2 separate regions of the Homo sapiens genome follow, and region 2 is linked to region 1. Evidence: fine-mapped expression QTL. A gene starts in region 1. The other region holds a variant in brackets. All regions are shown on one strand. Distances are from middle to middle. Region 1 holds the start of DCDC2C (doublecortin domain containing 2C). Region 2 overlaps DCDC2C (doublecortin domain containing 2C).

What was found. PIP is the estimated chance that this variant, and not a neighbour inherited with it, causes the effect.
Region 2: its variant is the best candidate, but not a certain one, in a credible set for the expression of DCDC2C in caudate (GTEx, PIP 0.54).

What each region holds. Positions count from the first base shown.
Region 1 is chr2:3,701,269-3,706,469 of GRCh38, reverse strand. DCDC2C (doublecortin domain containing 2C) reads right to left here and starts at 2,895. Exons shown (of 11, transcript NM_001287444.2): 1 at 2,432-2,895. The coding sequence starts at 2,718. ALLC (allantoicase) reads right to left here. Exons shown (of 12, transcript NM_018436.4): 11 at 4,834-4,958; 12 at 3,799-4,107. The coding sequence ends at 3,907. LOC105373393 (a long non-coding RNA gene) reads left to right here and starts at 2,970. Exons shown (of 3, transcript XR_922732.1): 1 at 2,970-3,011; 2 at 3,356-3,662; 3 at 3,831-3,910.
Region 2 is chr2:3,790,333-3,795,533 of GRCh38, reverse strand. All of the region lies in intron 10 of DCDC2C (doublecortin domain containing 2C), which reads right to left. Among named protein-coding and RNA genes, the nearest start is that of DCDC2C, 89 kb to the right of the region's middle. The variant G/A (reference allele first, on the strand shown) is at 1,988.

The DNA of each region.
Region 1 (5,201 bases):
TCTAGGCTTTATATGACACGTCATTGTTTTGAAAAGTAATTATTATCTTATAATATTTTGTTTTATAAAGAAAAAAATTATGTCCTTTGGGTCTCAAATTATTTTCTTCCAGAAAATGCAGGAAATGTCTGAGTAATGGCTGGATATTGGATAGATTTGTTGGTGTTTGTCTTTTTAATGCACCATCTTGAAACCACTATTATGAGGGGAGCTCCCGGATCACTAATATATCAACAGGCTTCACTTCAAAGTTCATTTGCTGGTGACACAATTAGAATATTATTTTCCAGTGAAAATTAATTGAACTGCTCAATGGCTTAGCAATTACAGAATATAAATTTCCAAGAGCTAGTTTACTTTACTAATACCAGTGAAAATCCAGCCACATTTTTCAGAGCTTTGTTCACCAAAGTCTGAATTCCAATTTCAGACTCACTGACCTAAAAAAAACTGAAGAAAAGGAACCCCACGTGCTCTCTATGTTGAACTTCACATGCAGACATGGCTCATCTATTTTACAGCAGTGAAGATGCATGGATAATAGATAATGCAAAATAACCCAGGCTGTCTGCCACACGGACCCCAACTCCCCTCCCTCTGCAGTGGGTGACATTTCTTTCCTCCCAAAAAGTAAAATAAACAGTAAGAGCACTGGGAAGAAAAACATCTCAATTTTTTCTCAATATTTTTGCTACATGTCCAAAACATTTTAAATAAACCATGAGACTCGAGACTCTCTCTACAAAACTGGAGGTACAACACGGTCTGGTTAGAAAATATCCAGCCCCACAGCAAGGGGAAAGAGTAACATCTCCCAGGCACACTCCAGGCTTCGTGGCAGGTGCTTGATACGTTTCCTTCCTCATTTGCTAACATGTAAAACACAGGCCAATTTTACAAGAAAATGTCTTGGGATAAAATTAAATACTTTTCATTATATATGTATCGAAAGGGACTTTAAAGGCAGTTTTTGTAGAGATATATTCTTTAATTGTAAATCAGCACTGAACACTGGATCCTGGGTAGGATGTCAGTTCTAGATATTCACACCATCTGACTAGCTTGGAAAAAATAATCACAAATCACATGGCTATAAAGGAATATAATTTTGTCCATGAATTCTAATACATAACAGGATTATCATAGTAATAAATTTCAATCTGAAATATGCTAATCCAGATTCTACCTCTTAGCAACTGTGATGCCTGTGACTTACGACTTTTCTTCAGAAACAACTGAATGGTAAATTCACATCTTTGCAAATGCCACTAAGAATTTGGAACCATACACCAGCCCTCATACTAAATCCTACTACTTTTTCAAAAAACAACAAACAAAACTCAAGCTGCTGATTTAATTCAGAGCATTTTTGAACGGAGAGCATTTGAAAGAAGAAAATGGAAATTCTCTCTGGGGAATCTCACTTTTATCTCAGCCCTGAAGAATGTCCCCACACAAAGCTATACAAAAGGAGTAGTTCACAGTCAAAAAATAAGTAAACCTACAAGGAAACAGAGAATCAGGAGAGAAAAGCAGCTGAGATCACAGAAAGCAGACACAGGCTGCAATAATGGGATTACAGACACAAACCGTGGGAGGGCAATAGTTTAATTAAAGGCAAGCTTGAAAATGCACGCAGGACCAAGTGATGGACACAGAGTGAGAGGGGTCACCCTGAGCGATTTCAAATGGGAACTGCCCAACCCGCCCCATTCCCAGGCCCTGCCCCCCACGCCCCTCCCCCCCACGCCCCTCCCCCCTCCCCCTCCCCTACACTCCTCCCCACGCCCCCCACGCCCCTCTCCACACCCCTCCCCCATGCCCCTCTCCACACCCCTCCCCCACGCCCCTCTCCACACCCCTCCCCCACGCCCCCCACGCCCCTCTCCACACCCCTCCCCCATGCCCTCCTCCACACCCGTTTCTGCCCCATGCCCCTCCCCCACGCCCCTCCCCCCTCCCCCTCCCCTACACTCCTCCCCACGCCCCCCACGCCCCTCTCCACACCCCTCCCCCATGCCCCTCTCCACACCCCTCCCCCACGCCCCTCTCCACACCCCTCCCCCACGCCCCCCACGCCCCTCTCCACACCCCTCCCCCACGCCCTCCTCCACACCCCTGTTTCTGCCCCACGCCCCTCCCCCACGCCCTCCTGGCCGTCTCTGGGGCGGTCCTGAATCGCTGCCGGCCAGGGCCCGCCCTGCCCCATAGGAAGGGACCCTGGGGGCGGGGCTGCCTCGGCTTCGCCCCCAGGAAACCACGTGGCCTGGGGCGGCCCGACGCCGGCTGCGCTGGATCCACGCCGAAAGATGGGCGCCCGAGCCGGGAGGGAAGCCTGGGGAGGACACCTGGGGGGCACGGCCCTGACCACGCTCAGACCCAAGAGGGCGGGGAGGGGCGCAGGGCGCGTGGGGGGCGCGGGCGCACTTACTCGAGCTCCTTGAAGCGCTCGCGGCCCGCCGCCACGTACTTGCCGCCCGCCTGCAGCGCGTCCAGCCCCAGCACCCGGTGCCCACGCGTGGGCGTGAAGAGGCGGCGCACGCCGAACGGGACGTCCACCTGCTCCGTGAGCTGCTCCAGCAGCGCCTCGAAGGTGGCCGCGCGGCGCCGCGACAGCACGAACTTCTTGCCCACGTAGAACGGGTCCCCGTTGCGGTACACCACGATGGTCTTGGCGGGCGTGGTGTCCACCGGCGCGGAGGGCCCGCGGGTTCCCATAGCCGCGCCCCGCTCCTCGCTCGCCGGGGCCGAGAGGCTGCGGCAGCGCGGGCAGCGACGCCTGCAGAGCCGCGCCCAGGCCCGGGCACCGCCGACGGGAGGTCCGCTCCAGCCGCTGGCGCAGGACGGGGACGGGACGGGGACGGGACGGGGGCTGGACGGGGACGGGACGGGGCTGCCAGGCGGGCGGAGGCTGCGTGTTGACGCGACCCTGGGCGATTGTGACCGCCTGGCCGCCAGGGCGAGGGGCTCGGGGCCGGGGCAGGAGACGGGGCGACGGGGAACCCGGGCAGGTGAGCAGGCGGCACGGGGCAGGGACAGGTGATTGGGTAATGGGGAGCCCAAGCAGGTGAGGCGCGGCACAGGGCGGAGACAGGTGAGGGGGCAACGGGGAGCCCGGGCAGGTGAGGGGCGTGGCGGCAGAGCTCAGGAAAAGAGGAGGAGGAGGCGGCTAGCATGATTGTGCTGAGCGCCCCGGGACGCCCACCGTGCCTCCTCCCCCTACACTCGCCGCCTTCCTCTGTAGAAGCGGTAGAGAGGAGGGTTAGGGAGGGACCAGGACCATCTTGACAATCAACATTGGATGGGTGCTGGGATCTGCTTCACATTTTTTGAGCCTCTGTTTCTTTGATCTTAGGTTGAATTTGACCGGTTCAGCCCCAGTGTCTTCCAGGACTCCTGGCCCAGAGTGGGGAATTTGAGCTTTTCCACCAGAGGAGGAGGTGTGCAGAGCCACTGGGAGGCCGTGAGGAACCGCGCTATAGCCGCTGGTGTGCGGTGTCAGGCGCGTGCCATTCAGAACGCATCCTCATTGGGGAATGATTCAAAGGGAGAGGGGGTCTTTGGAAGAATCGTTCCTACTCTGGGTAAAGATAGGCCAGTCCCCTTGAGTGATTCTAGACAGTCAGTAGGCTACATGTTACGGCTGGAAGTCCACACCGAAGGTACAGATATTGATATTATGAGTATTAATATCTTATAATGTTCAAAAAAAGTAGTTCCGTAGAGACCACCAGTCACAGCCATAGCCAGTATGTAAGCTACTAAATGCCTCATAGCAACATTAAATACAGAGATCAATTTGTGAGACGACCACTTTATTAAATCACCAGGTGTTCAAAACATTTGAAAAGAAGACTATGACTGGGAAATTACTGCTGTGTGTCCGACACCGGGGCTTTGTGTGTGTTAAGGGTTTGCTTTGAAGCTCACCGAGAACTTCAACATGGGCTTCTCCCGGGGCCTCAGGAGGCAGATGGAGCTGGGGAAGCCCCGGAGCCGAAGGCGGCTCACTCCCCCGTCGGGGACGATGGTGAGCCTGGCGTGAGTGATGACATCTTGGAGCTCTAGGGTCAGGCTATCGAACAGATGACTTTGGTTGGGAGACAACTGAAAAGCAAGCAGATGCAGAGGTCCTAGTCTGTTAACAGGACATGTGTGGCCGAATGAGCCCACGGCCCGGGCAAACCTTTGGCTTAGACTTAACCGAAGGGGCTTTAAAATAAGTTATTAATTGATGATAATTGGGCTTTCCATGAAAATCTGCTAGTAGGGATAGGATGCCCAAATAATACATGAATAAGCAGGCCCCAATAAACAATTGATGGGCAACCTAAATGCCCATCAGTTGTTTCTAATAGTTGATTATACATAAGCAAATTGATAAGAAAATGAAGGAAGAGACCATCTTGGTCTCTCCCGGAGATTATTTCCTATCTTTACATGGGAGCAGCTCTCACCTCTAGCCTGACCCTCTTTCTAAATCAAAGAAGACACTTGTGGAATATCTCAGAGCATCCATCCTGCAGGTGGACACGCCATTAGAGCTTTAAATGTGCTAGTCGCCCCTTCTACAAAGTTAAACATGATGCAGAGACATGTTTCCACGTATGTATTCTGAACATTTAACAATTTTGTTCTAATAAAATTTGGAAATACAAAAGTGGAGAGAAATAGAGCCTTTCTTCTTAAAGTTTGCAGATAGGGGTTTTAAACCTCATTCGTTTTACCATTAAACTGAGCAGAAACTTTGGAGCGTATCCTAATCCTTCAAAAGAGAATCTTAGGGAAATAGCACAGTCTGAGTGCTGGATCCGAATAACATGCCACACGAACCTTGGTCACTGGAAGCAGTGGTTTCCACTTGTGGGCCGGGAGAATCCACTTTTGCCTGATCACGGCTTCTTCTTCCTGAGTTGTCAGGATGCACCCATCCACTTTACAGCTGTCAGGAGCATTGCCTGTTGGAGCAAAACACAGCGTGATTTTCTGCCCGCATTTGCACTCAGTTTGGCGTATAGGATATCATGCTTTTTTAATAAGATCAAAAACCCAGCAAAAAACAAGTCCCTGCTCTTCCTGAGCAAAAGCAAAGGTATGAAGTATGTGAGGGAAGGAACAAACCGGTTTGTGAGGCTCAGATTGTCTCATGAAATAGACATTTCTTTTTCAGAGGACTCAGAAGCAGTCCGCCATATGTGAAG
Region 2 (5,201 bases), 89 kb before region 1:
ATTCAAGATGGATTAAAGACTTAAACATTAGACCTAAAACCATAAAAACCCTAGAAGAAAACCTAGGCATTACCATTCAGGACATAGGCATGGGCAAGGACTTCATGTCTAAAACACCAAAAGCAATGGCAACAAAAGACAAAATTGACAAATGGGATCTAATTAAACTAAAGAGCCTTCTGCACAGCAAAAGAAACTATCATCAGAGTGAACAGGCAACCTACAAAATGGGAGAAAATTTTCGCAACCTCCTCATCTGACAAAGGGCTAATATCCAGAATCTACAATGAACTCAAAACAAATTTACAAGAAAAAAACAAACAACCCCATCAAAAAGTGGGCGAAGGACATAAACAGACACTTCTCAAAAGAAGACATTTATGCAGCCAAAAAACACATGAAAAAATGCTCACCATCACTGGCCATCAGAGAAATGCAAATCAAAACCATAATGAGATACCATCTCACACCAGTTAGAATGGCAATCATTAAAAAGTCAGAAAACAACAGGTGCTGGACAGGATGTGGAGAAATAGGAACACTTTTACACTGTTGGTGGGACTGCAAACTAGTTCAACCATTGTGGAAGTCAGTGTGGCGATTCCTCAGGGATCTAGAACTAGAAATACCATTTGACCCAGCCATCCCATTACTGGGTATATACCCAAAGGACTATAAATCATGCTGCTATAAAGACACATGCACACGTATGTTTATTGAGGCATTATTCACAATAGCAAAGACTTGGAACCAACCCAAATGTCCAAAGTGATAGACTGGATTAAGAAAATGTGGCACATATACACCATGCAACACTATGCAGCCATAAAAAAGGATGAGTTCATGTCCTTTGTAGGGACATGGATGAAATTGGAAATCATCATTCTCAGTAAACTATCACAAGAACAAAAAACCAAACACCACATATTCTCACTCATAGGTGGGAATTGAGCAATGAGAACACATGGACACAGGAAGGGGAACATCATACTCTGGGGACTGTTGTGGGGTGGGGGGAGCGGGGAGGGATAGCATTGGGAGATATACCTAATGCTAGATGACGAGTTAATGGGTGCAGCGCACCAGCATGGCACATGTATACATATGTAACTAACCTGCACATTGTGCACATGTACCCTAAAACTTAAAGTATAATAATAATAAATAAATTTAAAAATAATAATAAAAAACTTCAAATTTGCAAAACATGCACATGTGTTTGACAGTGTCACAATACTAAAAGTCTTTTCTAAAGATGTTGATGAAAATATTAATGCATGTGATTTTTTAAGTATTGTATAATTAAATGTGTCATACATTTGCATAACTCATTGAACATTTGCATAACTCAATGAACCAATATTTTCCAAATGACCAATGCATCATGTTGTAAAATGCTGCATGGGTAAAAATGCATTCAAAGTACAGAATATAACAATAGATTTTAATGTAACAGGGAATAAAAAGTTCATTGATATGGGTTCTGATTCCACATTGTAACTAACCTTTAAGAAACTATCACTTGTCAAGTTTTGGTGTAGTACCAAAGAATATCCACAATTATCAACAAAGTCTATTCAAATATTCCTCTCTTTTTCAAGTACATATTTATGTGAGATTTTTATACATCACAAGCAAAAATAGAAAGACTGCATTAAAAACATGCTTCAAGCCCCCTTGCCCATGACCTGGCCTCTGCCCCCACACCCACCACCTTTCTGCACAGCCTCTTGTCTCTGAGGAGCACAGCAGCCTAGACGCAGTGACCTGGTCTACACCTTGCTGCATCTGTGTCTGAACCTGGCATAGAATGTGGCGTGCCTGATAGACACTGGATGCCTGCTATTTGGAATTCATTTAAAACATTTCTATTGTAACAGAGAAATGACTGAACATTTTTAAATTACAGTATTGATATTAGCAAAGAGACACTTCCATTTCCCCTCCATTCATACAAAAGCACTGGAGAGGAATAATTTCCAGTGGT[G/A]TTTCTGGCTCAGAATTGTAAGATCCCACAGACTCAGTCCATTCTGCTGATGGACAGCAGGACAGGGAGCCAGGCCATCTGGCACAGGCGCATTTGTCAGCTGCAGGTGCACAGAGTATGTGACACACATTTGGACAGCAGTGACAAAGTCATGTGGCAAGAATGCTGCACAGGCTTCCGATGCAGAAGGCGGCACTGAAGGATGTTTAGGAGCATTTTCGTCCATCCCAAGTATACAGACGGCTTGTCAAGTTCATATGCAATCTGTGCCTACAATATTTACCAATTTGTGAAATGTATTCTTAAGTGTAAATCAAGGTGTAAATTTGCGTTTGGGTATACTACAACTTTTTTTAAGGCCTGTCTTTTACTTTTCATTCTATTTACAAACAGCAAATGCGAGTTTGTATTTATGGACCTCTTTTTTGCAACGCCGTGGATACCCCTCCTTCAAAGATCAATAAAGACAAATCCTGAAGATGAACAAACGAGAAACAAATGCCTTGCCTTGAACGGAAATTATACGACCTTATGGATGGAATCTCCATGTACTCTGAACGGCGAATCTCAGTTCTGAGTTAAAACTCCCAGATGCTTCTCACATTGGCTTTGTCTTGGGGAAAAGCTGCCAGGTTCCCTGAAGATATGAAGAAAAAAGGCCCCTGAACAATCTCATTTGTCAATTCAAAGTGTCTGTGGACTTTCAAGTCCCTTTCCTCTTCACGTTTGATTTTCTTTCCTTAAATTGCTCATCGGAGAAGACACATTTTTCTCCAAAATATGGCTGTCAATTTAGGGTAACCAAGTAATAAATTCCCCTAAAAGTACCCTCACAGAGTGTGGTGTAAGCAGCCAATAAGGATTTCTCATTAAGCCTTCCCAGAAATGAAAATTTGAAATGTTACTTTTTGTGTCCAAAATTTATATTTACAACCAGGTCTATGTTACCACAACCTAAACTCCAGCTTGTTTGGTACCTTGCAGAAACATCGTAAATTGACTATATATATAATTATAATTTGAAATAATTCATATATCTTAAAAGTTACAGAGAGGATCTCTGTAACTCATGGGGAAAACCAAGTAAATACAAATAAAATACTTTCCTTTTGTGACTACAATGGCTTGTGCATTATGTGGTCATATTTTAATAAACACCTGCCAACCTGAGGCCAACAGAAGTAGGACAAGGGGCCACTCGTGGAGAACAGAAATGGAATCTGAAGCCCCAGACACCAGGGGCTGGATGCACAGCTCAGAGAAGACCATCCGGCTGAACTAGCAGGGACTGTTTCTGTTTTCTCCAGGGCCTATTCCTGCTGCTTAGGCGTTACAAGGCAGGCATCAAGTTCTATGAACTACTTTAATGTCCTCTAACCCCACGGGAGATACCTACACTGACACTTTTAATTAAGAGTTTGCTCACAGCAAAATCCCATCACTGTTCTTTGTCTATGTCATAGCAGATGTCCCAAAGTAAGAATTTTGTCTATCTGCTTAAAACCAATTTTCTGTAACAGATAATATTGTGGATAACTGGTGAATTAAAAAAAAAATGAACTAATAAATGAATGGCCAAAGGCTACTGAGGAATTGGGTGCTCCCTGAACACCGAGCTTCATCTCATCTCCTTTCCTTTTCACTGTCAAGGTCAAAAATAAGTTTGAATATACCAGAGGGACACAGAATGCCCTGTGGCGGTGTGTCATGAGAGTACTGCCTGGATCCTGCACCCTGCCCACAGGGTGGCTTAGAGGAGAAGACATTCTGCCGGCGGGAGGGGAGGAAGAGTGCTGGCCCAGCCTTGGCATGGCACCCAGGCCACTGCAAACAACACAGTGCTGGAGAGGTGTGAGGGTCATCAGGCCCCCGGGGAAGCTGGGAAGCAAATCCAAGTCCACTGGGGAGAGGGAAAGAGGATGAGAATTTGAGTCCTCAGCCTAGCAACCAGGAGGAAAGTAGGGAAGCTTCCAAGATGGAAGGCAAGGCGGTGAAAACTGACCTGCATCCGCTGATCTTTGTTCACTTGCTACTTCTCCAGGCTAGACTGGAACCATTTCATTTCCTTCTTCAGGACCCTAGTTGTGATTTCTAAAATTGTCGTGAATACAACAAAACTGCTTCCATGGAGCCCACCACACGAAAAGGCGATTGGTCCATCCGTGACTGTCTCTTATAAAACGCTAATGCAATACCGTGTGTTTGATTAATGAAGAGTGGAGCCCACCACACGAAAAGGCGATTGGTTCATCCATGACTGCCTCTTATAAAATGCCAATGCAATACCTTGTGTTTTATTCATGAAGAGCACTGCCCAGAGCATCTTTTCTGTTTTTAAGTGAAAATCTTTCTCCTATTATTTGAGTCCAAATGAATCTCCTATGTATAGAGGGATACAAGCTTTCTACTTCTAGAACCACAAAATTTTCTTTTTTTTTGAGACAGAGTCTCACTCTGTGGCCCAGGCTGGAGTGCAGTGGCGCGATCTCGGCTCCTGCAAGCTCTGCCTCGCGGGTTCACGCCATTCTCCTGCCTCAGCCTCCCGAGTAGCTGGGACTACAGGTGCCCACCACCACGCCTGGCTCATTTTTTTTATATTTTTAGTAGAGACGGGGTTTCGCCATGTTAGCCAGGATGGTCTCGATCTCCTGACCTCGTGATCTGTCCTCCTTGGCCTCCCAAAGTGCTAGGATTACAGGCATGAACCACCGCGCCCGGCCTAGAACCAAATAATTTTCTAAAAGTTTCATTGCTTAATATTTCACCACGACACCACTTAGCATTACTAATGACCTTAGACTTCACTTTTGAGACTCCAATGTTGATTGCTATTGACCTTGTCTCTTAGAGAAGCAATAAAAGACTTAGCTGTGGTGATGGAGTAGTATCAACATAATAAAGAGAAAAAACAGTAAAGATACTGGGCAGGCGATTAATTTTAAAAATCAATTAATGAATCAATGCCATTGTCATTTTGTTGCAAAAATCCTGAGTCAGAGATAATGCTGGATCCTGGTTTTATTGGCATTTCTGGCAATGTTAATTAAATGAAAACCCTCCACTGATTGAGAAAGCACACAAGGAGAGGAAATGATTGTTATGGATCTGTGGATGCATTTCACTTCAGTAAGATGCTGAAATGGTGTTTTCATCAGTAGCTGCAGGCGATGGAAAATGGCTGACGTTCTGAGCTTAGCATGTCTTAAGCATGTCA